7 linked regions of the Homo sapiens genome follow. The protein of the gene in region 1 purifies or fractionates together with the protein of each later gene. This does not show direct contact. Each region holds a gene or a part of one and is shown in the gene's direction. Other genes may lie near its edges. The genes, in order: S1PR4, TBC1D9B, TM9SF3, GNPTAB, CMTM6, PREB and CAV2.

What was found.
Region 2: the proteins of S1PR4 (region 1) and TBC1D9B purify together in Homo sapiens (affinity purification with mass spectrometry; one large-scale study listed by BioGRID and IntAct). This does not show direct contact.
Region 3: the proteins of S1PR4 (region 1) and TM9SF3 purify together in Homo sapiens (affinity purification with mass spectrometry; one large-scale study listed by BioGRID and IntAct). This does not show direct contact.
Region 4: the proteins of S1PR4 (region 1) and GNPTAB purify together in Homo sapiens (affinity purification with mass spectrometry; one large-scale study listed by BioGRID and IntAct). This does not show direct contact.
Region 5: the proteins of S1PR4 (region 1) and CMTM6 purify together in Homo sapiens (affinity purification with mass spectrometry; one large-scale study listed by BioGRID and IntAct). This does not show direct contact.
Region 6: the proteins of S1PR4 (region 1) and PREB purify together in Homo sapiens (affinity purification with mass spectrometry; one large-scale study listed by BioGRID and IntAct). This does not show direct contact.
Region 7: the proteins of S1PR4 (region 1) and CAV2 purify together in Homo sapiens (affinity purification with mass spectrometry; one large-scale study listed by BioGRID and IntAct). This does not show direct contact.

Annotation. Positions count from the first base shown.
Region 1 is NC_000019.10:3,177,107-3,181,182, forward strand, and holds S1PR4 (sphingosine 1-phosphate receptor 4 precursor), read left to right. Parts: upstream 1-1,662; 5' UTR 1,663-1,686; coding exon 1,687-2,841; 3' UTR 2,842-3,226; downstream 3,227-4,076. UniProt on the Homo sapiens protein: Receptor for the lysosphingolipid sphingosine 1-phosphate (S1P). S1P is a bioactive lysophospholipid that elicits diverse physiological effect on most types of cells and tissues. May be involved in cell migration processes that are specific for lymphocytes.
Region 2 is NC_000005.10:179,862,313-179,866,588, reverse strand, and holds part of TBC1D9B (TBC1 domain family member 9B), read left to right. Parts: intron 1-700; coding exon 701-751; intron 752-1,228; coding exon 1,229-1,335; intron 1,336-2,460; coding exon 2,461-3,141; 3' UTR 3,142-4,276. UniProt on the Homo sapiens protein: May act as a GTPase-activating protein for Rab family protein(s).
Region 3 is NC_000010.11:96,580,198-96,584,473, reverse strand, and holds part of TM9SF3 (transmembrane 9 superfamily member 3 precursor), read left to right. Parts: intron 1-4,276.
Region 4 is NC_000012.12:101,744,999-101,748,755, reverse strand, and holds the end of GNPTAB (N-acetylglucosamine-1-phosphotransferase subunits alpha/beta precursor), read left to right. Parts: intron 1-1,514; coding exon 1,515-1,592; 3' UTR 1,593-3,257; downstream 3,258-3,757. UniProt on the Homo sapiens protein: Catalyzes the formation of mannose 6-phosphate (M6P) markers on high mannose type oligosaccharides in the Golgi apparatus.
Region 5 is NC_000003.12:32,499,773-32,504,479, reverse strand, and holds the start of CMTM6 (CKLF-like MARVEL transmembrane domain-containing protein 6), read left to right. Parts: upstream 1-1,627; 5' UTR 1,628-1,734; coding exon 1,735-1,872; intron 1,873-4,707. UniProt on the Homo sapiens protein: Master regulator of recycling and plasma membrane expression of PD-L1/CD274, an immune inhibitory ligand critical for immune tolerance to self and antitumor immunity.
Region 6 is NC_000002.12:27,131,524-27,136,537, reverse strand, and holds the start of PREB (guanine nucleotide-exchange factor SEC12), read left to right. Parts: upstream 1-1,901; 5' UTR 1,902-2,116; coding exon 2,117-2,251; intron 2,252-2,816; coding exon 2,817-3,006; intron 3,007-3,200; coding exon 3,201-3,421; intron 3,422-3,614; coding exon 3,615-3,695; intron 3,696-3,810; coding exon 3,811-3,935; intron 3,936-4,134; coding exon 4,135-4,308; exon of another isoform or gene 4,309-4,334; intron 4,335-4,455; coding exon 4,456-4,528; intron 4,529-4,706; coding exon 4,707-4,866; intron 4,867-5,014.
Region 7 is NC_000007.14:116,505,432-116,509,359, forward strand, and holds the end of CAV2 (caveolin-2), read left to right. Parts: intron 1-539; coding exon 540-690; coding exon of another isoform or gene 691-728; 3' UTR 729-3,110; downstream 3,111-3,928. UniProt on the Homo sapiens protein: May act as a scaffolding protein within caveolar membranes. Interacts directly with G-protein alpha subunits and can functionally regulate their activity.

The DNA of each region.
Region 1 (4,076 bases):
TGTCTCCCCTCTCAGACCACAGCACAGGGCCTCGCATCCCTCCTCAGACCCCAGGACAAGGCTGAGCCTCTCCGCTCAGACCCCAGGGTAAGGTCATGCCTCCCCTCTCAGAACCTAGGGCAAGGCCAACCCTCCCCCCTCAGACCCCAGGCAGGTCCAAGCTTCCCCCTCAGACGCCAGGGCAGAGCCTGCCTCCCTCCTCAGACGCCAGAGCAGGGTGTGTCTCCCACTTAGACCCACAGCCACCTCACCTCAGGCTGAGTCACCGTGAGCCGTTGTCAGCAGGGCCATGGGGATGGGGTGAGCAAGTCCCTACTTTTCCTATGCACCTCAATCCCAGTGGGGGGCTGCCCCAGGGGGCCAGCAGCTCTGCTCCCAGCAGGGTGAGCTCAGGGGCAGGAGAGGCAACCATGAATCCCAAAATGGGCGCCTGGCCCCGAGACCCTACCAGCTTGTCCCTGGGGGTCTCTCTCCCTGGACCTGTGTGTCCTCCCATGGGCAGAAAGTTGGCCTCAGGCCGCCTTTGTGGGCCTCAGTTTTCCCTTCTGTAACGCATCAGGCTCTCTGGGCCTCAGTTTCCCCTTCTGCAACGCATCGGGCTCTCTGGGCCTCAGTTTCCCCTTCTGCAACGCATCGGGCTCTCTGGGCCTCAGTTTCCCCTTCTGCAACGCATCGGGCTCTCTGGGCCTCAGTTTCCCCTTCTGCAACGCCTCGGGCTCTCTGGGCCTCAGTTTCCCCTTCTGCAACGCATCGGGCTCTCTGGGCCTCAGTTTCCCCTTCTGCAACGCCTCGGGCTCTCTGGGCCTCAGTTTCCCCTTCTGCAACGCCTCGGGCTCTCTGGGCCTCAGTTTCCCCTTCTGCAACGCATCGGGCTCTCTGGGCCTCAGTTTCCCCTTCTGCAACGCATCGGGCTCTCTGGGCCTCAGTTTCCCCTTCTGCAACGCATCGGGCTCTCTGGGCCTCAGTTTCCCCTTCTGCAACGCCTCGGGCTCTCTGGGCCTCAGTTTCCCCTTCTGCAACGCCTCGGGCTCTCTGGGCCTCAGTTTCCCCTTCTGCAACGCATCGGGCTCTCTGGGCCTCAGTTTCCCCTTCTGCAACGCATCGGGCTCTCTGGGCCTCAGTTTCCCCTTCTGCAACGCACCGGGCTCTCTGGGCCTCAGTTTCCTCTTCTGTAACGCATCAGGCCCTGTTTCGGGGATCAAGTCGGATGAGTCAGTGCTCAAGGGCATGCAGGCACTTGACATTTATTAGGCACCTGCTGTGTGCTGAGCGCCGGTGGAGCATGTGGGGAGACCTCAGTGGAGCCGACGGGTGCTTCGGGGGTGATCAGGGCTGGTGGGGAGGAGTCGTCCGGCTGGAAAGGGGTGGCCCATCCCGAGTGGGGACTCATTTCCCCTCCGTGACTGACGGCTCCGGGGCTCCCTGCGGGTCTCCGGCTTTCGAGGACAGGAAGAAGGCAGCCAGGGCAGGGGTGGGGGTCCTCACAGCCAGGGCAGCCCCAGCGCGTTGGCTCCAGGAGCCCGGGTGGGGGCCGACCGTTGGGGTGCCCCTCCCTGTCCTCGGCCTTACCTCCACCCTGGAGGGCACCTTGAACATAACAGGAAATTTCAAATAACAGGAAACCAAGACCAGCAAGGCGGGTGGCTCCACCCTGCGTCGGGCCTCAGTCAGCCCCCGGGGGAGGCCATGAACGCCACGGGGACCCCGGTGGCCCCCGAGTCCTGCCAACAGCTGGCGGCCGGCGGGCACAGCCGGCTCATTGTTCTGCACTACAACCACTCGGGCCGGCTGGCCGGGCGCGGGGGGCCGGAGGATGGCGGCCTGGGGGCCCTGCGGGGGCTGTCGGTGGCCGCCAGCTGCCTGGTGGTGCTGGAGAACTTGCTGGTGCTGGCGGCCATCACCAGCCACATGCGGTCGCGACGCTGGGTCTACTATTGCCTGGTGAACATCACGCTGAGTGACCTGCTCACGGGCGCGGCCTACCTGGCCAACGTGCTGCTGTCGGGGGCCCGCACCTTCCGTCTGGCGCCCGCCCAGTGGTTCCTACGGGAGGGCCTGCTCTTCACCGCCCTGGCCGCCTCCACCTTCAGCCTGCTCTTCACTGCAGGGGAGCGCTTTGCCACCATGGTGCGGCCGGTGGCCGAGAGCGGGGCCACCAAGACCAGCCGCGTCTACGGCTTCATCGGCCTCTGCTGGCTGCTGGCCGCGCTGCTGGGGATGCTGCCTTTGCTGGGCTGGAACTGCCTGTGCGCCTTTGACCGCTGCTCCAGCCTTCTGCCCCTCTACTCCAAGCGCTACATCCTCTTCTGCCTGGTGATCTTCGCCGGCGTCCTGGCCACCATCATGGGCCTCTATGGGGCCATCTTCCGCCTGGTGCAGGCCAGCGGGCAGAAGGCCCCACGCCCAGCGGCCCGCCGCAAGGCCCGCCGCCTGCTGAAGACGGTGCTGATGATCCTGCTGGCCTTCCTGGTGTGCTGGGGCCCACTCTTCGGGCTGCTGCTGGCCGACGTCTTTGGCTCCAACCTCTGGGCCCAGGAGTACCTGCGGGGCATGGACTGGATCCTGGCCCTGGCCGTCCTCAACTCGGCGGTCAACCCCATCATCTACTCCTTCCGCAGCAGGGAGGTGTGCAGAGCCGTGCTCAGCTTCCTCTGCTGCGGGTGTCTCCGGCTGGGCATGCGAGGGCCCGGGGACTGCCTGGCCCGGGCCGTCGAGGCTCACTCCGGAGCTTCCACCACCGACAGCTCTCTGAGGCCAAGGGACAGCTTTCGCGGCTCCCGCTCGCTCAGCTTTCGGATGCGGGAGCCCCTGTCCAGCATCTCCAGCGTGCGGAGCATCTGAAGTTGCAGTCTTGCGTGTGGATGGTGCAGCCACCGGGTGCGTGCCAGGCAGGCCCTCCTGGGGTACAGGAAGCTGTGTGCACGCAGCCTCGCCTGTATGGGGAGCAGGGAACGGGACAGGCCCCCATGGTCTTCCCGGTGGCCTCTCGGGGCTTCTGACGCCAAATGGGCTTCCCATGGTCACCCTGGACAAGGAGGCAACCACCCCACCTCCCCGTAGGAGCAGAGAGCACCCTGGTGTGGGGGCGAGTGGGTTCCCCACAACCCCGCTTCTGTGTGATTCTGGGGAAGTCCCGGCCCCTCTCTGGGCCTCAGTAGGGCTCCCAGGCTGCAAGGGGTGGACTGTGGGATGCATGCCCTGGCAACATTGAAGTTCGATCATGGTACGTGATGTTGCGGCCTCTTATTCCCTGGTGCGTGCATGCGTGGGGGCCGTGGCTCAGGGGGGCTGTGGATCTAGGGGCAGCCGGGTGTGTCTTTGCTAGAGAGGGCCACGGGCCAGTGCCCTGTGAGGGTGGAGTGTGTGTGTGTGTGTGTGTGTGTGTGTGTGTGTGTGGACAACCTCTGGGCGTTGCGGGAAGTGGGGGTGACAATGACAGTTAATGCCGCCTCTTCTTGTTCACTTCCCCTTTAGAAATGGCAGGGCCCATGCCCCATCTCTGGCCTCTGCATCTTTTGGGGACCCACTCTCTGGGGCTGGCAGAGGCACCACCTTGGCTTCCTGGGCTGGGGGAATCTTCCCTCACATCCCCTTCAGCATGAACGGCCTCGGCTTTCCCGGTGGGTAAAACAGTTTAATCACTGAAGCCGAAGCACAGGGTTGATTGTACACGCTCCCCGCCAGCCACAGGGGCTGACAACTGCCTGCCCCGTGAAACTCCAGTGGAGACGTTTCAGCTCCACACCATTCAGTATGGGAGACGCCAGCCCCACGGGGCTACGGTGCAAGCAGATAACTGAATTTCGAAGTGTAGGTTGTGTTTAATTTGAATCTGTTTATATTTCGGTAGCCCCATGGGGCGGGTGGCCACAGTTTCAGTGCAGATGTAAATCCGGAAGCCTCCAGCACCTGCAGCTCATAGACAGCTCTCGCCCACCTTCTCCCAGGACCAAGCCAGTCCCGTCCAGTCCAGTGTCTGAGCAGAGTCAGAATCCACACCACCCGCCGCCTGGGCTCAGAAAGTTCTGCTTTAAGTCATTATTTCTCCACTGTACGATGGGGAATGCGGTGTGTGG
Region 2 (4,276 bases), on another chromosome or scaffold:
CCAGGGTGAGTTGCCTGAGCCCAGAGAGGTGTGCCCTTCACTGCCACCAGACAGCCAGCGAGAGCAGCTCAGAACTGGGGTGCTGCCGACCTGCCTGAGGTGCCCCCACCAGCCACACTGCCTTTGGGGAACAGCTCCAGGAGAGCTGGTCGGCTGCTTCTCTCCCCAGGTGCATGTTCCCACGCAGGGAGTATAGTGCGCGCCAGTTCCGGCAAATGTCCTCCCCGAAACGCTGCACCAAGCACAGGAGCTGTGCACAGACCACCCCTCAGTAACAGGCACAGCAGGCGCGGGTGGAAGGGGTCATTAGGGTTCCCCTGAGTTCTAGCAGGAACATTCCCCAGAGTTCTAGCAGGAACTATAGAATTCGTTAGTCCTCAGACTGGTCTATAGCCCTCATCATTGTTCACGTCAAAACCAGCATGTTGAGACTTGTATTCATTTGAAAAAAGGAATTGAGGGTTTGGCGGCCTTTATTTTAACCTGACCAAGTGAGGGAATGCTCAGGCCCTTTTGCTCTGGTGCCATAGGGCGGGGCTGGGCGGGCCAGGCAGGAGGTGTGGCATGGGAGACCTGCTCCCCAGGGCCTGGCCTGGGGCTGGCTGTACAGAAACACAGACTACATCTCAAGGACCCCAGGAGCTTGCAGTCCCAACAGCAGAATGTTATTCATGTTCTTTTTATTTTTGCGTTTGTCCAGAAGCACTACCACAGGAAGAGCAAGAAGGAAGTGGAAGTGAGGAGAGAGGAGGTACAGGCCATTCTCTGCCGCTGTTCTTAGAGACCCCAGCGTTGAGGCACCCTTGCTTGCTGGTCTTTTCCCCAGTCACTGCCAGGGAGCCCCCTACCCCGGGAGATGGCGGATGCGTCCCCCGATCAGGGAGCAGGCCTCGGGATGCACAGGAGGCTCCACGCTCTCCACCAGCCCCACGGGCACCCAGCCAGCCCTCTCTTGCCAGCTTCTCTCCAGCTGCCCTGTGACTCCCCATCTGAGAGAAGACATTGTGGATCATTGTCATCAGCTTAGGTCCAACCACTGCAGCAATTTAGGGAAAACCTGTGGCTGTTCTGGGTTTTTTTCCCATGACCACCTTCCCAAACGCCAGGGTGTTTTATGATAGGGCCCTGGTAACTCCATGCCAGAAAACACCCAACTCTTCCTCTCCCTGCTGTCAGCCCGCAGCCGTCTCACATGACAAAGATTAATCTCTTTCCTCCTAACCTGCAGAGGAGAAGGGGACCAGCTCTCCGGACTATCGGCACTACCTTCGAATGTGGGCCAAGGAGAAAGAGGCTCAGAAGGAGACGATTAAGGATCTTCCCAAGATGAACCAGGTAGGCTCCACTGGAGCCCACAGTAGACATTTCTGGAGAGTTCTGACCAAGACTGGGCCCTAACATCACCGCACCTGCACTGCAGCATCTCCTGGTGGGTGGGAAGGCTCCTCCCTGCCTCTAGAGCCCGTTAGTCCTGGTTGCCAGTCAGCGATGATTCCAGAAAGACAAGAGGCCAGTTGCTCCAGGGCCTTGTATAGGGGCATGTTTCCAGATTGAGTGAGTGTCTGTGAACCAGGAGCCAGAGGCTTGTAGGCTACCTTTGACAAGATATGCGTTCCACACCCTGCACCCTCCCAGCCCTGCCCAGGGCTCTGCACACGCAGGCTCACATGCATCCTCCACACCCGCTCTTCATTCACTGGTCTCGCAGATCAGAAGCATGGTGTCTTGCCAAGGGTCTCAAAGCCAGAAAATGGGAGACCCCAGCTCCAAACTGCAAGCGTTGAGCCAAAGGCAAGTCTGGAGCACCAGCCTGACCATGGCCCTCGGGCCAGACCCACGGTCTAGCTGTGCCCAGTAGGGGACCCTGCAATCTGACCACTCCCCCAGCAGGCCTGGAGGGTGGGCACCACGTGCGATGAGGATTCTTCCCATTCTTGGGCCAGGAGGCCTAGACGTGTGGCTTCAGGACCTAGCACCCACCCTCCCCAGCACCCCCCTCCCCAGGATCCCCCTCCCCAGCTGACCCAGGCTGTATTTTCCTCACCATCACCTTCTAAAGAGCTTCATTCAAGGGCTGAGTTGAGGCTGCTTCTGATTAAAACCAAAGGTGATTCTAAAACACAACGAAGTCCTTGTACTGACTGGATTTAGAGTCGTGGTAGAAATCCATCTCCCTGTGCCAACAGAACGGACCTAGAAACAGGGAGGCCCCAGGTCAGACCAGCATGCTCTGAGTGCCAAGAGAAAGGCAGCTGGAGGGGAAAGCCTTTTGAAGAGCTGTGTGGCCTCTCTGAGCCTGTGTCCTGATCTGTGAGATGGGACTGATGAGGCTCATGGAGATGATTAGCAAGACGGCAGCCAACATCCTTAGGCTGGTGCTTGTCATCAGTTTGGCTAATATGGACCCCGTCTGACTGGTCTTTTACCATCTCCCTGTTCTTCTGTTTTTCTCCCTAAAAGGAGCAGTTCATTGAGCTGTGCAAGACGCTTTACAACATGTTCAGTGAAGACCCCATGGAGCAGGACCTGTACCACGCCATCGCCACCGTGGCCAGCCTCCTGCTCCGCATCGGAGAGGTGGGGAAGAAGTTCTCAGCCCGCACAGGCAGGAAGCCCAGGGACTGTGCCACTGAGGAGGACGAGCCACCAGCACCCGAACTGCATCAGGACGCAGCCAGGGAGCTTCAGCCCCCAGCTGCAGGAGACCCCCAAGCCAAAGCAGGCGGAGACACACACCTCGGAAAAGCCCCACAGGAGAGCCAGGTGGTGGTGGAGGGGGGCAGCGGCGAGGGACAGGGCTCACCCTCCCAGCTGCTGTCTGACGATGAAACCAAAGACGACATGTCCATGTCCTCCTACTCGGTGGTCAGCACGGGCTCCCTGCAATGTGAAGACCTTGCAGACGACACGGTGCTGGTGGGCGGGGAGGCCTGCAGCCCCACAGCGCGCATCGGCGGCACCGTCGACACCGACTGGTGCATCTCCTTTGAGCAGATCCTGGCCTCCATCCTGACGGAGTCCGTGCTGGTGAACTTCTTTGAGAAGAGAGTGGACATTGGACTCAAGATCAAGGACCAAAAGAAAGTGGAGAGACAGTTCAGCACCGCCAGTGACCATGAGCAGCCTGGAGTTTCCGGCTGATGCCTGCAGCTGTGAGGCCTGGCCCAAGGTGTCATCAGTGGGGCTGGCCTCATCTCCTCCTGCCTTTCCTCCCTTATCAGTTTCTCTTTAAAGGTGTGCCCCTCCTGCTCTCCCAGGAGCAGTGAGTTGTGAGTGGAAAGAAGGCTGGTGCAGACCCAGCTGCCTTAGACAGATTCCCTGGGCCTGCATCTCCTGGCGCCGGCTGCTTCTGGGCCCAGGAAGAGGCTGTGGCTCCCACCTTCCTTACACCTGGTGGGAGCCCGCCTCGCACCAGCTGCACCTGCCTAGCATTACAGGCTCTCAGATCTGCCCTTGCTTGCCTCATACCTCTGTGCTCCACACTGCGGCCAGGCCAGCTGAGTCCCTCCATCCGTGGATGCTTTCCTGCAGCTATGTGGTATGGGGGTCATTCCTGCCTCTTGGCACCAGGTTGGGGGGCATGTGCTTGTTGGGCACCAAAGTGATGGAACCCTCAGGTGCTCTCCGGGAGCCTGAACCTCCTGACTGAGGAACATGGGCAGAACATGTTTATTGCACAGAGTGGGCGCTGCGCACAGGCGTGGCTGTACACGTGCTCTCAGCTCATCATCCTTTCCAGTAACTTTAAAAAAACATCCCTCAGGTCCTGATATATTTCCTTGGATTCATTTCACTTGGCTAGAAATTACACTGTGCTCAATGCCTTAATAAATCCCTGAAAGAAATAAAAACCACTGTGTGCAATGCCTTGCTGTGGCCCCCAACCACTGCTTAGGCCTCCCAACTTCTCCCCAGGCCAAGTATGGGGCCCTGGCTGTGTTCTGGAAGTTCAAGACACTTAGTCCTCCACAGTGGGTGGAAGAGTGCAAGGTCTGCCAGGTCAGATGGAGACGCAGAACCTGCTGGTGCAAGCTGGGCAGGTCCTGACCAACCTGCATCAGGGGATGCCCTGAGCTCCACAGGTCTTCATGGGCAGGGGTTGTGGGTCCTGGTGAAGGAAGTGCATCCTCAGGCCTGGGCTGTAGCAAGCTGTCTGCCCTTGGGTTCAAGAACCAGACTGTGGAGCCAAAGGTGACCGCAGGGGGCCCCAGGGCTGGAGCCACAAGGATACCCTCACTTTGCATGAGGAGCTGAAACTGACCAGTGTCCAGTGTTA
Region 3 (4,276 bases), on another chromosome or scaffold:
AGCATCTAAAAATAAGCATAAAATTCAAATGTCATTTATATTATTTTTTCACTGTTAGCCAAAATCTTTTGCTTTTTCTAAATTTCTTGAAAATATTTCTCAAAAACTAGGCATTCCTATTCCTCTTAGCCAGATAGTAGTACCGAAAAGGCTAATGTCAAGTGAGTTTTATTTATTTTTTTCTGTCAAAGAAGCAGAAGTAGCTAGTAAAGAGAGAATAATACTAAAGGAAGAGGAGACATTGGTGTGGGGAAGTTGCTGAGTAGGTGTTTAGTAAATACATGTAGAATTGAATTATCAAACAATAACTTTTAGAAGCTGAAGCTGGCCTTTTAGGTTAATTGCCTGTGAAGATTGTTTCCAGATAATACCTAGTATGTCTTTTGTAGTAAAATGGGCTATGCACTGTTTTTTTTTGTTTGTTTTGTTTTGTTTTTTTGAGGCATAGTTTTGCTCTTGTCACCCAGGCTGGAGTACAGTGGCACAATGTCCACTCACTGCAATCTCTGCCTCCTGGGTTCAAGCAATTCTCCTGCCTCAGCCTCCCTAGTAGCTGTGATTACAGGTGCTTGCCACCATGCCTGGCTAATTTGTGTATTTTTAGTAGAGACGAGGTTTCACCATGTTGGCCAGGCTGGTCTTGAACTCCTGACCTCAGGTGATCTGCCTGCCTCGGCCTCCCAAAGTGCTGGGATTACAGGTGTGAGCCACCATGCCCTGCTGGCTATGCACTGTTCTAAGTATTTTACACTTATTAACTCATCTATTAATAACCTACGAGGTGAGTAATATGCCCATTTTGTAGATGAGGAAAGTGAATCTAGAGAGGTGAGGTCACCTGCAGATAACACACATCTGGTAGGGGTAGAGGTGGGATTTGAACTTAGGCATTCTGAGTTGATAGTCTTCTGCACTGTGAGCCGCCATATGCTCTATTCCCCTTTATCCTAAAAATAAGACAGTAAAGCACTAGGTATTGAGTGGTTCTCTATATTGATTTTTAAGTGCTTAAATGCTTAAATGCTCGAATGAGTGTGGCTCCATGATGAGTTGTTTCTGAGATCTTTGGGTTAGCATTAAGGAGCAATAGTGTTGACTTCATGGGCACGTGCCCTGAATAGTCACAAAAGACTGTGTGAGAGCTTGTTTTCATGCTATCCTGTAACATCTTGAAGTTTTAAATTTTTTAACAAGGGGCTCTGTATTTTTCTGTACTGGGTCGCACAAATTATATAGCTTGTCCTAAGAAGGGACAATACCTTATGCCCATTCCCCAAAGCCCCTGATATCTCTTACTGTACCTACTGAATTAGGATTCAGGTGGCCATCTGACCCATATGGTATTTTTTTTTCTTTTTCTTTCTTTCTTTCTTTTTTTTCTTTTTTTTTTTTTGAGACTATGTTTCACTCTTGTTGCCCAGGCTGGAGTGCAATGGCGTGATCTCGGCTCACTGCAACTTCCGCCTCCCGGGTTCAAACGATTCTCCTGTCTCAGCCTCCTGAGTAGCTGGGATTACAGGCATGTGCTACCGTGCCTGACTAATTTTGTATTTTTTTAGTTGAGACAGGGTTTCTCCATGTTGGTCAGCTGGTCTTGAACTCCTGATATCAGGTGATCCGCCTGCCTCGGCCTCCCAAAGTGCTGGGATTATAGGTGTGAGCCACTGCGCCTGACCCTATGGTATATATGTATATATTTTATGTGCTTATTTGTCCAAAGTTATTTTAATATTCTCTGAAGAGTGTTGAAAAGGAAATGTGCTATTGACTGTATGTACATATCTAGAATATGTAAAAATGTGTTCCTTTTAATTTTTAAAAGTTGAATCATATGCATTACAGACATGTTGTTTGAAATGAAAATTAACACTTTTGTGGAAGACAGGCTTTTAATAACTGATTGAAGGGACATAGGCTTCTTTATAGTCAGTGAAAGGTATGTTTATGCTTATTTGGTTTTCTAAAACTCAAAGCACTTGGAAGCATCTAGAGTTAGATTACTATGTCTCCTAAGATTCCGAAGGACTCCATTAAAAACAATTTCAGATTGAGAATCATAGAATTTTAGAACTAGAAAGACTCAATAATTTAATCCAAAACTCTTCATTTTCCTAATGGCCTGTACAGGTTCAGAGACTTGCTCAAGGCCACAGAAAGAATCAGAGCTTCCTGATCGCCAGTCTTGTCTTTTCTACCTGTCTTTTACATGTAATTCCATAGTTATAATATGTAAAGATGTTAGCAGCAAAAACCCAGTACTTAGGGGCACAGGAATCTTAGAGCATTTTATAGTTTGCACTGTAGCCTTGAATTTTTATGGGTTCTGTTTCCTTAACAAGATCACAAAGTCAGATTTTTTTTTTTTTGGTCTGTTATATACGCAAGCACTGTGCTTGGCACAAATAGTACTTGATGAGTGCTTGTTGAATGACTTGAATAATTAGGGAGCTACTAGTGACAAGGATATGCAGTGTGGAAGCACAATGAACAAACTGAGGCCGTTATTCCTTTAAGATGCATAGTCTTCTGTTTTGATTTGGGGGTCCTACCTAGGCTAAAATTCCCTATTTCTCTGTGGCCCAGTGTACTTCTGGTAATCTTGAGACTTCTAATGTTGGACAGACTGGATGCCTACTAGAATCGTTTACTCAGCCTCTGCCTCATAAATAATTTGTATTATATCACGGAGTGATTTCAGAAATGTTTTGTTTGATTTACTTTGGCAAATGGAAACCTTTTGTCTTTGTCTCTGTTGGGAGTATAGGAACTCTTAAAACTTACTGAAAACTTATAAAGAGTATAAGCTGTTTACTATAAGTGAATTTGTGAGTTATCTAATGTAGATTGTTAAATGCCGTAATTCGTTGTCCTATTTTCAGCTCTACTCAATGATAGACTGAAAGTTTATTTAGGTACAAAGCTATTTTTGAGAGAGAGTAGTTATCTCAAGAGACTATTCAAAATTACATTTCTAATTTATTTGTATTAGAATTCTGATGTGTGTTTTAATAATTTAAAGGTTTTGAAATTATGATTTCTGGAACATTATTTTGAAGTAAACACATATATTTTTCCCCCTTTGTATGAAAATGAAGGATAGCATTTGGGTGCTTGTTCTGAACCCTCAGTCCTTTGCTCATCTATGTAAATTGTGATTTCTTATTCAGATTTCACATGACCACGTCAGCATATTATCTTCTAAAGCGTTTCTCCTGATAATAATTAATTCATTACCTCTGTCAAGGAGGAAAACTTTGGTACCCCCCCAACACATAAACAGTATTTAAATAAGAGGGGCCCAACATTGGTGACTTCTTGAGAATAAAGGTCATTCCTTTTGAGATTAGAGTGCAAATAGCTTCTTAGAAGGTTTTTTTTCTTTCAGGCAGATTAAAGGCTCACATAGAAAAGTTATTCAGTGTTCAGGACTGTCTTTAGTTGCTTTGTACACCTGGCACTGTTTTCATATTTCCTTGATTTAGTTTTTTGCTCTTTAATGAATGAAGCTGACTAGGGATTAGCAAAAATACTAACCTTTTAAACTTGATGCTGATTGATTTGGACAAATTACTTAACATCTCTGTTCTTTAGTTTTGTTTTTGTTTTTAGTCTGTAAAATGGGGAAGTAATAGGACCTATTTTATAGAATTTTGAGATGATTATTTAAGTGTTCATATAAAGACCTTAGAACTATACCTAGCTCATAGTATGTATTTATTGTTAGCTACTGATGTTATTATTACAAAAATGGTGAGATCATGTCATGTTAGGGTTTGGTGAGTTAAGGCTTTACTTGAGGATTTGAAAAAGGAGGATTTGAGCATTTCGGAAGGATTATTAGAGTTTGGCTAAGTGGAGAAAAGGAGGGCATTCTAAATTTGGTGGAATGACGAAAGAAGATGAAGTGGGGCCAGGCGCAGTGGCTCACGCCTGTAATCCCAGCACTTTGGGAGGCCGAGGCGGGTGGATCACGAGGTCAGGAGATCGAGACCGTCCTGGCTAACATGGTGAAACCCCGTCTCTACTAAAAAATACAAAAAATTAGCCGGGTGTGGTGGTGGGCGCCTGTAGTCCTAGTTACTCAGGAGGCTGAGGCGGGAGAATGGCGTGAACCTGGGAGGCGGAGCTTTCAGTGAGCCGAGATTGCACCACTGCACTGCAGCCTGGGCGACAGAGCAAGACTCCGTCTCACACACACACACACACACAAAGATGAAGCAGAAAAGGGGAGGAAGACAATATCATAAACCGTTTTGGCCAGCGTGGATGACGTAAG
Region 4 (3,757 bases), on another chromosome or scaffold:
CTTCCTCTCTTTCACGCTTCCTTGAGTGAGCACAGTGTCTTCAGACATCCCACGGTTCCGTTGTGTTGTCCCACTCACACCAGTAGCTCCCATTTATCTTTCTTTCAATCGCTAGGAGTTCTCCCTCCTCTCTCCTCCTTCCTCCTCTCCTTGTCAGCCCCTCTACACCTGGGCTTTCCTCTGCATGCATGTACACACGCAGCCTCCTTGAGGTGAGTGTCCAGAAGTCGGAGGGAGATTTGTGAGGTAAAGAGAAAGGGATAAGAGAGTCCTCATTAGGCTATTCACATATCAAATACTCTGAAGAAAAAGGATTGAAGGAGGGGAATGGGCATCTTTACCAACCTGACTTGGGTGTGGCAAGTGACTTGGCCTCTGCCTCCAATCAAGGTGACTATTGAGTGGAGCTTTTCTAGCTGTCACTCAAATGAAACGTACACCAAGTTGACTTATACCAAGAAGGACAAGCACCTAAGTACTGAGAGCTTCAGGATAAATGAATGGGCTTCTTGCTGTAAATGGAAGGAAATTCAGGAAACAGAGACTGGGCAGGTGAACAGGACAGCAACTTAACCTTCATCTGCTTTCCAGGGATTGTACATCTTGTTCTTGATGTCTGTTACCATTGTTCCTGGCAGGTAAAAGTCTTATGAAAAATCTCAGAAAGGCTGTACCTGCTTTTAGAACAGGGTCCAGTGAGAAACCTTTGAGTCTGCTGTGCTGACCTAGGATGGGGAAGGAAAGGAGCCCTGACTCAAAGGAGCAGCCATTAATGGAAAGGAAGAGGAGTGTCAGTCTTTCCTCTATCTATACCAGTAGAGAATAGGGAACTAGAGAGGCAGTCTTTCCTCTATCTATACCAGTCTATCTATACCAGTAGAGAATAGGGAACTAGAGAGGCAGGAAGAGGGAAGGGAAGGGCAGGTTAAATCCCAACACTCTGCTCTCTACTGGAGTCAAACTCCTTCCTCCTGCCATACCTGCCACCTTCACAAACAAAGCAGCCAATGCTGCCTCTTCCTCCCCTCCCAAATTCCAGCTCATCATTCAAACCGTGGTGTCTTATGTTTGGGCAAAGCCCTGCCTCCTCCTACAGATGAAGGAATAAGCCATCATATCAACCCAGAGACAGTGTCTTATGGCTAAATAGAGCCAGTTTCCTTCAATAGAAAGACTTGACAAATGGACATCTTGAAAATAAATATGCTTTGGTAATAGCTGTGTAAAAATCTGTAGTTGTAGGTCTTAGAAAAATGAAGCATGGGCCGAAATAATTTTAATCCTCTTGGGTCTCTTTGTGGGCACATATCTAGGCATACTGTCCCTACAAAGCTAAACAAAACTAATATTTGTTTTTGTTTTGGAAGAGGAATGATGGAGATTTGTTTGTTGTCTTTTTAATGTATAAGATTGTGGAAATGATTAAGGTCATATGGCTCTTAGAAAGTTTGATGCACTTATATTCTTTCATCAACGTGAGAATTAAAATGTATTTTCTGTCTTTCATCATTTAGTTAATTGCACTTAAGCGGAAGATATTTCCCAGAAGGAGGATACACAAAGAAGCTAGTCCCAATCGAATCAGAGTATAGAAGATCTTCATTTGAAAACCATCTACCTCAGCATTTACTGAGCATTTTAAAACTCAGCTTCACAGAGATGTCTTTGTGATGTGATGCTTAGCAGTTTGGCCCGAAGAAGGAAAATATCCAGTACCATGCTGTTTTGTGGCATGAATATAGCCCACTGACCAGGAATTATTTAACCAACCCACTGAAAACTTGTGTGTTGAGCAGCTCTGAACTGATTTTACTTTTAAAGAATTTGCTCATGGACCTGTCATCCTTTTTATAAAAAGGCTCACTGACAAGAGACAGCTGTTAATTTCCCACAGCAATCATTGCAGACTAACTTTATTAGGAGAAGCCTATGCCAGCTGGGAGTGATTGCTAAGAGGCTCCAGTCTTTGCATTCCAAAGCCTTTTGCTAAAGTTTTGCACTTTTTTTTTTTCATTTCCCATTTTTAAGTAGTTACTAAGTTAACTAGTTATTCTTGCTTCTGAGTATAACGAATTGGGATGTCTAAACCTATTTTTATAGATGTTATTTAAATAATGCAGCAATATCACCTCTTATTGACAATACCTAAATTATGAGTTTTATTAATATTTAAGACTGTAAATGGTCTTAAACCACTAACTACTGAAGAGCTCAATGATTGACATCTGAAATGCTTTGTAATTATTGACTTCAGCCCCTAAGAATGCTATGATTTCACGTGCAGGTCTAATTTCAAAGGGCTAGAGTTAGTACTACTTACCAGATGTAATTATGTTTTGGAAATGTACATATTCAAACAGAAGTGCCTCATTTTAGAAATGAGTAGTGCTGATGGCACTGGCACATTACAGTGGTGTCTTGTTTAATACTCATTGGTATATTCCAGTAGCTATCTCTCTCAGTTGGTTTTTGATAGAACAGAGGCCAGCAAACTTTCTTTGTAAAAGGCTGGTTAGTAAATTATTGCAGGCCACCTGTGTCTTTGTCATACATTCTTCTTGCTGTTGTTTAGTTTGTTTTTTTTCAAACAACCCTCTAAAAATGTAAAAACCATGTTTAGCTTGCAGCTGTACAAAAACTGCCCACCAGCCAGATGTGACCCTCAGGCCATCATTTGCCAATCACTGAGAATTAGTTTTTGTTGTTGTTGTTGTTGTTGTTTTTGAGACAGAGTCTCTCTCTGTTGCCCAGGCTGGAGTGCAGTGGCGCAATCTCAGCTCACTGCAACCTCCGCCTCCCGGGTTCAAGCAGTTCTGTCTCAGCCTTCTGAGTAGCTGGGACTACAGGTGCATGCCACCACACCCTGCTAATTTTTGTATTTTTAGTAGAGACGGGGGTTCCACCATATTGGTCAGGCTTATCTTGAACTCCTGACCTCAGGTGATCCACCTGCCTCTGCCTCCCAAAGTGCTGAGATTACAGGCATAAGCCAGTGCACCCAGCCGAGAATTAGTATTTTTATGTATGGTTAAACCTTGGCGTCTAGCCATATTTTATGTCATAATACAATGGATTTGTGAAGAGCAGATTCCATGAGTAACTCTGACAGGTATTTTAGATCATGATCTCAACAATATTCTTCCAAAATGGCATACATCTTTTGTACAAAGAACTTGAAATGTAAATACTGTGTTTGTGCTGTAAGAGTTGTGTATTTCAAAAACTGAAATCTCATAAAAAGTTAAATTTTTGTCTGACACTTTGATTTTTAAATCTTTGAGGATTGAGTTTACTGTTACTCAGATTCAGCAGTCACTTGAGTGCCTTTACTGTGTATCAGGTTCTGTGCTGAACATTACTAAAATTAAGTGGAAAGTAAGGAAAGATTAGTATTATACAGAAGAATGTTGCTTTATGGGGGGAAAATAGTTTCTAAATGGAATTTATCATATGGTAAAATTTAGGATATCTGGGTATCATTATAAAAGCTGAGATTTATTCTAGAAAAGTTAGAGAAATGAACATTTGTCTGTAATGACGATTTCTGTGGTTAGATGAATATAGTCCATACCTAATTAGGAGCTTGATAATGGGATGGATAATACAATCATAGGCTATTCATAGACTCATTCTAATGATTCTGTGATTCAGTAGAATCATTAGAACAGAGGAACCTCAGAAGTTGATGAGCAGTCAGATGGTCAGAACCATTTGTTCAAATCCTATAGAAAAGGTCACTCTGTGTTTTAGTTTTTTT
Region 5 (4,707 bases), on another chromosome or scaffold:
CCGAAGTGCTGGAATTACAGGCGTGAGCCACTGCGCCTGGCCTATCACAAATCTTTTATCCATCTCTCTAGTCATCAACTCATCTTAATTTTGGATGAATTTCAAAGGAACTTTTAGACATCAGTAGTGTCTAATTTGGGATGATAGTGACTTGAAGAATAATGGGGCAATGAATCCTTGTAGCCCTGGTGAAAATACAGTGGCCTTCCTTGTTGGACAGAATTGGTGGCATCTTGGCCTTGGGAGGACATTCAGAGTGCATGTAATCAGAGACAGAAGGGTAGTTCTGGCTGGTTGTAGGTGGCCCCTGCAGGGCAGTATCTACTTGTCTCTATTCATTTGAATGGGAGCTTTTGTTTGTTACTGGAAGAAGAAAGGGAGGTTTGGGGCCACGGAGAAGATGTAGCAGCTGATGGCAGCAGAAACCCCTTCTCTCTTCCATGGGTTTTGAGACTCCAATGGAGAGATGAGTTAGAAGCTGACGTTTTCTGGGTTAGCGTTTAGCAGCAAGGTTTCGAGTCAGACTGCTTAGGCCTGCATTCCAGCTGCTCCTGGCTGTTTGACCTTGGATATGATTTCAGCCTCTTGGCCTCAGTTTTCTCATTTGAAAATGAATGTAACCGACTTTATACTGTCGAACCTACTTTATATTGTTGTGAACATCCTGTAACTCAATCAACTTCAGTTGCTAAAATATAATTACATTCCTTGACAAGTTCACACAAAATTAACATATGTGACTGTAGCAGTTGGTGACCAAGAAAGAGAAAAAGGAAATGATTTTGAAAAGTGAGCCTAAATGGAATTTCGGGAGACGCGGGAGGGAGCGATTCTGAAAGTCCTTACAGACAACTCATTGTACTTCAAATGAAATACGAATTCTTCCCTTGGTCTGCAAGGCCTCCACATTATCTGGCCTTTGCCTACATCTCCAACATCTCCTTTCCTCCCGTACTTATTCCTAGCGACACAGGCCTTTGGGCTTCAGATTGAGTCAAACTCATTTGGTCCTCGGGACATTTGCACTTTCGTGAAAGGCTCTCCCCAGAACTTTACAAGCCTGGCTTCTCACACTTTGAGTCTCATTCAATTCAAAGATCATGGTCCTCAGAGAGGCCTTTCCTGACCACTCAGTTTAGTAGTGGCCATTTAAGTAGAGCACCCAATTCTCCATCCTTTTTTCCTTCTCCTTCCTCTTCTCCTCCTCCTCCATCTTCTTTTTTTTTTTAATAAATTTATCAAGCCACCAGAAATGCTGAATCCATTATTTTCGTATCATATTTTCACGTCACTTATCACTATCTGAAATTGCTATCCATCTGTTTTCTTGTTTATTGTCTGTCTCTGTTACTAGGGATCCTGTGATTTTGGGTAGTACTTGGCTGTCACCCAAGTACCTAGAACGGGGTTCACTGCACACCGAAAGTACGCAAAAATACTAAGTGAATGAATGTCAGGAGGATGAAAGATGGAGGGAGGTGAGAAATCCATCAAAGGCTCACAGAAAGAACTCAATTCTTGGATGAAAGTCGGAAGAATCCCAACAGCTAACAAGCAAATTTGCTGAGAGGGGGCGGGGCGGGCCAAGGGCGGGGGCGGGAAGGGGCGGAGTCAGGCGGAAGCCGGGGAGAAGGCCCAGGAAGTGACGGCCGCCTCCCGGCTACCGGGGACTTCTGGAGTCCGAGAAGTCAACGGCGCGGTTGCTGCGGCCGCCGCGCTCCCCGGCCCGAGGCGATGGAGAACGGAGCGGTGTACAGCCCCACTACGGAGGAGGACCCGGGCCCCGCCAGAGGCCCCCGGAGCGGCCTCGCTGCCTACTTTTTCATGGGCCGGCTCCCATTGCTCCGGCGCGTTCTCAAGGGCTTGCAGCTGGTGAGTCCGCGGTCAGGGAGGGCGAGCCCGGGCTGGGGAGCGGGGTCTGGCCCGGGCTTGGGAGGCCGCCGAGCTCCTTCGTTTCAGCTTGGTTGTTCAGTAAAAGGAGGTTTCCACACCTCTAGTTCCTTCCCTCTCAGCCTGGGGAAGGGGGCGTTACCCTCCGCCCTTCCGCCGGGCGGCCCCTCAGTCCCAAGGCTCTCCCCATCGGGATCCCACGAACTGGGGCCACCCAGCCTGTTAGGCGGGCTCAGGAAATGCGTCGGAGACCCAAGTCAGCCACTTCAACATCTTTCACTCATCCTCTATGGCGACTTTCCTCTCTTCTCTCTGCTGCTACCCTGCATTATCGCCCACAGTGCCTGTATTTAGACTGTGAAGCGCTGTTTATCTTTCTCTGGCTCTTGCGGTTTTCCTGCTGCGAGCCCATGGGGGCAGTTTAACTTGCTGGACAAAGTCCTGCGATACCACGCGTGGCATTGAGATGTGTGTGTATGTGTGTCCGGTAAATTGTCTTCTAAAAGTTTTATATTGACTGGAAAAGAATTATTTCAAAATTGAGCAATATGGGTTCTAAGTGGAAAGTCAAAAGGACAGCTTTTTGTAAGTATGTGCGGATAGCTGAACTAGGACATGGTATGCATCTTTCCATTTTATTGAGTTTATTTTAAGCAGTTGAAGTACCATAAACCTGTTCGTGAAAACATCAAAGCATCTTTGAGATTTAAATTATTCACTTTACAGTCGTGTTGGCTCCTATGTACTGTTCCAACCACTGATGGTTGAACCAGTTTAGGAAAAATAGAAACAGTTTAGGTTCTATTTCTGCAATAGAACCAGTTTAGGAAAAATCCGAATGCTTATGATGTTTATGAGTTTTGTCTTACTTTGTTTTGTTTTTTAACCATTCTAAGTAAAAATTAGCTCATTGGTTTCCTTGGAAAGAACTTAAATTCTTACAACTCAAATGACCCGAAGTTAAATTCTTAGAACTCTAGTGACCTACTTTTATTGAATAGAAAAACAGAAGTCGGAAAATCGGCACTGCTGTTTAGCGATCAAAATGATCACATCTGCTGATGACTGGGAAATCATTTGAAAGCAAGTGATAATGTGGCCTATGGAACCCAGTAGGATCTGGCCTTATCTTTCTCCCAGTCTCCCTCTAGGTGGTTCCACACTGGCCACCTTTAATTTATTACGAGGCATCAGGGGCTCTTTCCTGCCACTGTTCCTTTGCATAAGCTGTTCCTTCTACCTTCTTCCTTCTTCCTTCTCTTCTCTTGTCAGCTGTCACATGATGATTTTTAGGTATTAGCTGTATTTCTCTGCAGTAAAGCTAAAATTTTCTACGTGAATAGTAGAACTCTTTAGAACAGAAAAGAATATTCATCTGAAGCTTTTTTTTTTTTTTTTTTTGAGACCGAGTCTTGCTCTATCGCCAAGGCTGGGGGCAGTGGCGCAATCTCGGCTCACTGAAACCTCCGCCTCCCGGGTTCAGGCAATTCTCGTGCCGAGTAGTTGGGACTACAGGCACGCACCTCCATGCCCGGCTGATTTTTTTTTTTTTTTTTGGTAGAGACGGGGTTTCGCCGTGTTGACCAGCCTGGTCTCAAACTCCTGACTTCAGGTGATTTTCGCCCTCCGGGCCTCCCAAAGTGCTGGGATTACAGGCGTAAGCCACTGCGCCCAGCCCATCTGAAGCATTCTTGCTGCTCGAAAAAAATCATCTGTATTGGTTTGCTGCCCACAAAATCTCCTGTTTTCAGTTGCCTTTATTATTTTCTTTCTAATAAAAAGTGGCAAAGCTAAAGTAAATTTTCTGATTACCTTCTTATAGTTTAGTAAACTGTAGTTTCGTATCTTTGGAATAGAACATAACCAGTTTCCTTCCTTATTGCTGTTATAGAAGAAAACATGGAACACAACCAGAAATTTTTGTGGTAAATGTTATACTTGGACACAGAGAAGATGAATTTGCCTTAAAAGATCGTTAGACTATTATTAGTTCTCCATCATTCATAAGAAGAAATGGAGAAAAAATAAAAACTAATATCTCTTTATGAAATCCATTTATTTGTTTATGGGGAAATTGTCATGTTACAGGAATGCTTTCTTTAATGTGGAGATTTAAAAGTACTTTTTCATTACTGCCTTTCACTTTGATGGTTGTCTTTTTGTTCCTTTGTTTGTTTTGATAATGTCTTATCTCTTCACAGTAACAGTATATTACAGGAATTATCCAGCAAGTCCCAAGAAGGTTACATATGAAGTCGGTAAAAGTTGTCTTCCAGCCTGGGGCTATAGGCAAGGTCTTTGCCTTAACTCAAATTCTTCCTTTAGATAGATTGGTTGTTTTACTTTAAATGTTTAATTTTTTTAAAAAACTAAACAGAATTGCGAGCTCCAGTAAGGAAACAACTGTAATGGAGAAACCCGTAATCAGAAGAGGAGGTGTTTTAACAAGGGACCTGCAAACCCTGTGAAATTTTATTCAAAATATTGTACACTTATATGTTTGAGTATATTATTCTGGACCCATAAATCTTAACAGAATCTCAAAGATCCTACAAGAGAAAAGCCTGCTCTAAAACTTAAAAACCAGACATTGTGTATATACTTAGGAAATTCTTACATTAGAGTCTTCGGAGGTTGAATTGAATTACCTCTGAGGTTCTTTGCACTCTTAAGGTTTTTTTTTTTTTTTCAAACCTCTGAGGCTCCATGGGGTTTGCTATTACAGAACTGAATTGAATATTGAAGGGATAGAGAGTGGAGCCTGTACACAGAGGAGATTAGAGATAAAAGAACGTAACTTCTCTATCTCTTGAAGTT
Region 6 (5,014 bases), on another chromosome or scaffold:
AATGAGCTATATCATGCCATTGCACTCCAGCCTGGGTGACAGAGACCCTATCTCAAAAAAAAAAAAAAAAAAAAGAGGGCATGGTGTGGTTGCTCATGCCTATAATCCCAGCACTTTGGGAGGCCAAGGTGGGCATATCATTTAAGGTCAGGAGTTACGAGACCAGCCTGGCCAACATGGTGAAACTCCATCTCTACTAAAAATACAAAAATTAGCTGGGTGTGGTGGCGGGTGCCTGTAGTTCCAGCTACTCAGGAGGCTGAGGCAGGAGAATCACTTCAACCTGGGAGGTGGAGGGTGCAGTGAGCTGAGATCAGGCCACTGCACTCCAGACTGGGCAACAGAGCGAGACTCCGTCTCAAAAAATAAAAAAGACCCTGGAGGGTGGTGTCAAAGGAAACGGAGAGGCCAGAAAGAGCAGGTGCCATGTATCCAAGGAGGACAAGGGACCCACAAGGCCTGGGGACTTGAGATATGCAGAGAGCTTGGCCAGGCCCTTCACACATCTAATTCAACTCTGTGGGACAGATATTGGCATCCCCAAAGATGAAGCCACTGCGCTATTCCTCTGGGTGCACCTTAGGTTAATGAGAATGCAGGAGAGGGCGTCTCTTTGCAGGGAAGGACATCCCTTGTGCTCGCTCTCAGGAGTGCACAAAGGTCCTCATCAGATCAGAAACCCGAGGGAGAATGGAGTGTCAGGCGCAGAAGATACCTGCCCGGGAGCCAAACTGCCCCCTCTGAGGCCAGCAAAGCAGCTGGCCACCCACCAAGCCACCAGCCCAGGAGTGTGAAGCCTTGAGAAAGGGAATGGCAGACACCACCCCTGCCAAAAGTGGGCGATAGGCGTTAAGGATGACAGACGTGTCCTCATACGAGGAAGCAATGGATTCAGCATTTGAAGTCAGGTTTATTTTTAAGTTCATGCTGCCTCCGTTAAGAAGCAAGAGACTCCGGTGGTTTCTGGTGTGTGCCCTCGGGCAAATCACTTCCTCTCTGAGGTAAGATGCAAAGGCCTGTGCTCCTAGGAGTTGGCATATCACTCCTCAGATGGGAACAGTCCTTATTTGAGGATTTTATGTGTGTGAGAGACAGGGTCTAGCTCTGTTGCCCAGGGGCTGGAGTGCAGTGGTGACATCACTGGTGGTCCAGCGCAGCCTCGACCTCCCAGTCTCAAGTGATCCTCCCGCCTGAGCCTCCTGGGCACCTGGGCCCACAGGTGCCACGATGTTTGGCTAATTTTTAAATATTTCGTAGGGACGGATCCCCATGTTGCCCAGGCTGTCTCGAAAGCCTGGGCTCAAGCCATCCTCCTCTCTCGGACTTTCCGAAAGTGTTGGGATTACAGGAGGATTACAGGCATGAACCACCGTGCCTGGCAGAGGATTTTTTTTTTTTTGAGACGGAGTTTCACTCTTGTTGCTTGTTGCCCAGGCTGAAGAGCAATGGCAATGGCGCGATCTCGGCTCACTGCAACCTCTACTTCCCAGGTTCAAGTGATTCTCCTGCCTCAGGCTCCCGAGTAGCTGGGATTACAGGCGCACGCCACCACGCCCTTTGTATTTTTGGTAGAGACGGGGTTTCTCCATGTTGGTCAGGCTGGTCTCGAACTCCTGATCCGCCCGCCTAGGACTCACAAAGTGCTGGGATTACAGGCGCGAGTCGGATTTCTTTATTAAAGGTTGACCTTCATCAACCTCCATTGGCTCCACCTCCTCCGCCCGCGCCCCGCGCCCCGCACAAAAATGGCGAAGTCGGTGCTGGGCGACTCTGCCTCCGCGCCAGGGGTGGAGAACCGAAGCCCCGCCCCGGGAAACGCGGCCCCGCGGCCGGCTAGTGCTGACGCGTGTCGGCGCTCCTGCGCCTGCGCGGAGGGAGCCGCGAGACAGGTGCGCATGCGCAGTGCGCGTCTGCGAGACCGACTTGGACGGAGCCGAGCTGAGGCTCGGCTTCCTGCTGATGGTCAGGGTTTTGGCAACTCCCCGGTGTGAGAGGGGTAGGGAGTGCTCCCGGCGGCGACGGGGCCGAGTTCACCAGCCGCCGGGGCAGTAGTCGAAGGCCCGGCGCGGCATGTCCTGGGTGCCGCGGTGCGGGCAGTGAACGCGCGCCGGGCGGGATGGGCCGGCGCCGGGCGCCAGAGCTGTACCGGGCTCCGTTCCCGTTGTACGCGCTTCAGGTCGACCCCAGCACTGGGCTGCTCATCGCTGCGGGCGGAGGAGGCGCCGCCAAGACAGGCATAAAGAATGGCGTGGTGAGAGCGCAGGGCCACTGGGGCTGGGTCTTGCTGCGGGCTGGCGGCGATTCCAGGGTGGCCGGGGGGTCGCGGGGCGGGCCACACTCCAGCTTCGGGCCCTGCCCACTTCTGTTGGGAAGACCCGCTTGCCTGACGCCCAGGGGCGAATTTCAGTCGAGAACTCAGCGGGCGGAGGAGAGGCTTTTAAGGTAAAGTGAAAACTGCACACAGCTGCAGAGTCGCCAGGAACGCTTCAGCTCCGCCTCAGAGCAGCTCCAGGGGTCTTATACTGGCCTTTTCCGGGAGGTCTTGCCTGCCCTCTAGCAGCGGCGAGAGTGGTGCATTTGGGTTTAGGCTAAGTTCCTTCCCTCTCCTGAGCTTCACCCTGTTCTGTAAAATAGAGGTAATAATCCCAGTCCTGCTCACTGTGTAGATTTGTGAGGCCCAAATGAGAGAAAAAAGACTCGAGAAACCCTTGTGAACTAGAACGTGCAGAAAGCAAAGGGGTAAGACATCAGACTCTTCCCTAAACGTGCTCTCTGGGCACCCCTGAACTTGCTCATCCGGGTTCCCCCTCCCACAGCACTTTCTGCAGCTAGAGCTGATTAATGGGCGCTTGAGTGCCTCCTTGCTGCACTCCCATGACACAGAGACACGGGCCACCATGAACTTGGCACTGGCTGGTGACATCCTTGCTGCAGGGCAGGATGCCCACTGTCAGCTCCTGCGCTTCCAGGCACATCAACAGCAGGGCAACAAGGCAGAGAAGGCCGGTGAGGAGCTCCCTCTCTACCCCCTTGGGGAAAGGGTTGAACGAGTAAGGTCACTCTTGGTGTCTCTAAAGAAGTGGGTCTGGAAGTAGGGTTTTGGTAGCAAGCTAGAAGTTGTATGGGCACCTGCCATGGAGAGAGGGGCCAGTACTCCTTACTGTAGAAGCCTGGAACCTGGCCAAGTGTTTGTGTTACAGGTTCCAAGGAGCAGGGGCCTCGACAAAGGAAGGGAGCAGCCCCAGCAGAGAAGAAATGTGGAGCGGAAACCCAGCACGAGGGGCTAGAACTCAGGGTAGAGAATTTGCAGGCGGTGCAGACAGACTTTAGCTCCGATCCACTGCAGAAAGTTGTGTGCTTCAACCACGATAATACCCTGCTTGCCACTGGAGGAACAGATGGCTACGTCCGTGTCTGGAAGGTGTGGGTTTGCAGGGTTAGGGAGGGTGAATGTCAGTAGCAACAGGATCAAAATTGTGAGAAGTTGAACGTGGCATCTGGGAAACTTGTGAATGAAGCTTGCATTGAGGGGCCATTAGAAGGGGTGGCGTGGGCATCAGTCACAGTGTACTTGCTGGACACCTGAGTTAACCATGGTGGTTGTTTGGCTACAGGTGCCCAGCCTGGAGAAGGTTCTGGAGTTCAAAGCCCACGAAGGGGAGATTGAAGACCTGGCTTTAGGGCCTGATGGCAAGGTGAGGGGCTGGGGGTGGGAGGAGGATGGAGAAAGGAGAGAGGAGGTGCTTATGCTGCTTGCCCAGTAAGTGGATCCCCTAACTGTCCATCCTTGGAATCTTTATTCCTAACTAGTTGGTAACCGTGGGCCGGGACCTTAAGGCCTCTGTGTGGCAGAAGGATCAGCTGGTGACACAGCTGCACTGGCAAGAAAATGGACCCACCTTTTCCAGCACACCTTACCGCTACCAGGCCTGCAGGTGTGAAGACTTTGGGTGGTGGCTGAAAGAGGCATAGCCCAGCTGTGGTGGGGGAGAGGGAAAAGACTGGGGATGGGAGAGCTGGGGAGGAACTTGTTGAGTGTTACCCCAGGTCTGACCAGGGTGCAGGTGGTGCACAAACCTCTGAGGAGGGTTGGGCAGGCCCTAGGAGCTGAATAGCCCCTCATCCGGCCCCCAGGTTTGGGCAGGTTCCAGACCAGCCTGCTGGCCTGCGACTCTTCACAGTGCAAATTCCCCACAAGCGCCTGCGCCAGCCCCCTCCCTGCTACCTCACAGCCTGGGATGGCTCCAACTTCTTGCCCCTTCGGACCAAGTCCTGTGGCCATGAAGTCGTCTCCTGCCTCGATGTCAGGTGTGAGACATTGCTGCCTTGGCTAGGTAGGGGGTCCCTGAGGGAGCTTGGAAAGGAGTCCTGCCTGGGTCCCTACGGACCGGTATTGGGGTATGAGGGTTGCTGCACAAGCCTCCAGGACAATGAGCTCTTTATTGTTTGTTGCAGTGAATCCGGCACCTTCCTAGGCCTGGGCACAGTCACTGGCTCTGTTGCCATCTACATAGCTTTCTCTCTCCAGGTAATGGGTGGAGGTTGGCATGGCCCTGTGGGTGGACTGTAGGCCTGTCTCTACCCTGAGTTTGCAGGAAGGAGTCTGGCCCATCCTATCGAGGGAAATCCTGGGGGTGGGGAACATGCTTTCCAGAAAGAGAGTTCCCAGCTAGGCCTTTCCTCACTGGTATTCCTTCTGCCCACAGTGCCTCTACTACGTGAGGGAGGCCCATGGCATTGTGGTGACGGATGTGGCCTTTCTACCTGAGAAGGGTCGTGGTCCAGAGCTCCTTGGGTCCCATGAAACTGCCCTGTTCTCTGTGGCTGTGGACAGTCGTTGCCAGCTGCATCTGTTGCCCTCACGGCGTGAGTCATTGGGGCAGGGCAGGCAGGCACCACCCCACGTTTAATGACCAGAAACGTGCCCCCCGGAGGCTGGGCTCTTTGTGCCACTCCTCCTTTGAAGGGTTCTGGTTTTCAGGCTGGGAAGCCCTTTTGCCCGCTGACCTCCTCC
Region 7 (3,928 bases), on another chromosome or scaffold:
GGAATACCTGAGACTAGGTTATTTATAAAGAAAAGAGGTTTATTTTTGCTCACAGTTCTGCGGGCTGTACAGGAAGCACAGTGCCAGCATCTACTTTAGGCAAGGACCTCAGGAAGCTTCCACTTATAGTGGAAGGAGAAGGAGGAGCAGGCACGTCACATGGCAAGAAAGGGAGCAAGAGAGAGAATGTGGAGGTCCCAGACTCTTTTAGTTAATCAGATCTCAAGCAAACTAACTGAGTGAGAACTCACGTTACCAAGAGGGTGGCAGGCACTAAGACATTCATGAGGGATCTACCCGCTGTGATCCAATTATCCCCACTCGGCCCCACCTCCAACACTGGGGACTACATTTCAAAATGAGAGTCAGGGGGACAAAAAACCCAAATCATTATCAGTGATCATTGTTCATTTATTTGTTTCAAACTCTCAACCAAATTTAAGTAAATGGGTCAGTATTTTATCTTTTCATACATGTACAAGACAGACCTTATTTGGTAACAGCAACAATCCTCACACATCTCTCTTCCTTCCTTCCAGGATTTTAATGCCTTTTGTAAAGACCTGCCTAATGGTTCTGCCTTCAGTGCAGACAATATGGAAGAGTGTGACAGATGTTATCATTGCTCCATTGTGTACGAGCGTAGGACGATGCTTCTCTTCTGTCAGCCTGCAACTGAGCCAGGATTGAATACTTGGACCCCAGGTCTGGAGATTGGGATACTGTAATACTTCTTTGTTATTATAACATAAAAGCACCACTGTTCTGTTCATTTCCTAGCTGTTCTAATTAAGAAAACTATTAAGATGAGCAACCACATTTAGAAATGTTTATTGACAGGTCTTTTCAAATAATGCTTTTCTAATTAATAGCCAAAGATTTCATATCTAACTTTGTAACCAGAATTATACAGTAAGTTGACACCACTTAGATTTAAAGGCAGACAGTTTTGCTTTAGTACAATAGTATACATTTTATAATGATGAACTTATAATGATTAAGGGACATTTCTATAAAAATACTACAATAGTTTTATGCACAACTTCCCATTAAAAATGAGATTTCTTATTTGTTTGTCTGTTTTTACTCTGGGAGTAATACTTTTTAAATTACCTTTACATATATAGTCACTGGCATACTGAGAATATACAATGATCCTGGAAATTGCAGTAACAAAAGCACACAACGATTATAGTAACTATAAGATACAATAAAACAAATAAATATGAAAGTAGATTCATGAAAATGTATTCCTTTAAAATATTGTTTTCCTACAGGCCTATTTAACAAGATGTTTCATTTTACTGTATATTTTGTAGTTAATATAAATGTTGCTCTAATCAGATTGCTTAAAAGCATTTTTATTATATTTATGTTGTTGAACTAATATATGAAATAAGTAAATGTAGCTCCCACAAGGTAAACTTCATTGGTAAGATTGCACTGTTCTGATTATGTAAGCATTTGTACATCTTCTTTGGAAATAAAAGATAAAAGAGCGATACACAAAGCTTTCTTTTCTAACTTTTCCAAGCAAAATCTAAAATGTTTTATGACATTTTTCTGGCTGTGATCTTAAAATAATTCATATCTAAATAGTATTTTGTCTAGGAGATGCTTTCTCTCTAGTAGTTAGAAATTAAATCTGTGTCAGCATTCCTATTAATGTCTCACTTTACTTTCAAGTAATATTGGTGCTATTTAACATTTTACAGTAAATGTTACTTCTGATACTTTAGTACAATTTCAACTACAGTGATTCATGTAGAGAGACAGGGGAGTTGTCAACTTGGGCTACTGAACTACATGCATAAACTAAAAACTAACAGCTACAAACTTTTAAGATTTCTCTAATATTGGTATGTAACACAGGATAAAGTTATTCTTGTCATTTTGAACTGTAGAGTCCTATTTCAGTGTGATGAATCACTGTTGCTTTGAAAAATCTCATTATTTCTGGGCCGGGCATGGTGGCTCACCCCTGTAATCCCAGCACTTTGGGAGGCCAAGGCGGGTGGATCATGAGGTCAGGAGATCAAGACCATCCTGGCCAACATGGTGATACCCCGTCTCTACTAAAAATACAAAAAAATTAGTTGGGCATGGTGGCATGCACCTGTAGTCCCAGCTACCTGGGAGGCTGAGGCAGGAGAATTGCTTGAACCTGGGAGGCAGAGGTTGCAGTGAGCCAAAATCATGCCACTGCACTCCCGCCTGGCAACAGAGCAAGAGTCTGTCTCAAAAAAAAAAAGAAAAAAAGAAAAAAAGAAAAAAGAAAAATCTCATTATTTCAAAATGATAGACATATACCAAAAACAAGTCTATAATGTGAGTAGTTACTAAAATTTACACATCTTAAAAGTGTGTAAATGCTTAAATTTCAGAATTACCATCAGAACCTCAATTGACATTCCTTTGAATACGCTAATAAGTGACAAATAAGATTAATAAGATTTTTCAAAATCGCCAGGACTGGTGAATATAAATGATGATTGAACTGGAATAATATTGGGGACCAAATCAAATGAATGATTAAATTATGAAGCTCATATCCTTTTGAAGGTAGTTGCAAAGAGACATTTCAAAACTGCCCTAGGCCATTGCAGCATCCTTAGATGGGACGCATAATCATTACCTTAAAGCATCACCACTCATTTTGACCATATAGATTTTATTATGTTAGTTTAAAAGGTCAATCAGCCTCATGACTTTATAGTTATGTCTTGTATTTAAAAACATTTTTTATACATTTGGTTATGTTGATAAACCAAAAACATTTGATTAATAAAATATCTATTTGAATAAATTATGAGCTATCCTTTCAAACAGCTATTGGCAAGTTTTAAACCCAAAATATATACACATAGTTCTGTAATAAAACTGTTTGACTTCTCAAGTAACATGACTTCCTTATTTCTGAACAGTACTGGTTACTTTCAAAATGAATTTTTATTGAGATTTTCCATTAACTATTTTTTTCAAAGACTCAAATTTTGTACCAAGTAAATCCAGGCTTTATGTACAAACATGTTGTTTGTTTTATTTGGGGCTGGGGGAGGTATATGATGAGCAGACTTCTCGGAATTCATAATAAATTTTCTAAAAGCCTACAAATGTGTGTATTGCTTTTATTACAGTAAATATGGAATCTTTCATACTTATTTTTACCTTATTAAAAACTCAAAATAGATAATAAATACATTAGTTATTGCTTATTTGGGAATGTATTTTTAAAAATTATTACATTAGTAGTTGAATTCTTTGTTTTCCAGCACTTAAAGAGGTTCCATATAAATGTTCTATCATTTGATGAATAGTATAAAATAGCCTGTTCACACACCCACCATACTTCTTCTTTTTTATAGTCTCTTCTTGCTAATCCTAAATAAACTGAAATTTGTTTCCAATTTTTAAAATAAGAAAGTAACAATATAAATCACAGGCACTTGGATACCTGTACCATGAAGCTAGACTAGAGTCCAAAATTATTTTTGGAAAGTGAGTATGTGAAGAGTAGTTGCTGATGTTGGCATACATTTTCTTGTCAGTTCATCTGGAAAAACGACCAACCTATAATAATAAAGCAGGTGCTTGGCTTTTTAAAATGTTCTTTATAGTTTTCAGGAACTTTTAAAAATTCATCTTTTTGATAGTCATCCACATCCCATTAATTTATTTTGATGCCTCTCTTGGAAAGTTGTTGGAGTGTAGTGAAAAAAGCCCTGCCCTAGAAGTCAGGCAACTGGATTCCAGTCTCAGCATTGCCGTTATTGAGGTGTATCCCTTCATGCAAAGGGTTTAATCTTGGGTTCTCAGTTTTCTTATCGTTAATGAAAGAATTGAACTAAATGGTCTCTCAGGAGCTTCCTATCTCATTGTTTTCTGTGACTTCAGCAGGATGAAAACTTGGCTATGTATATGAAAACCA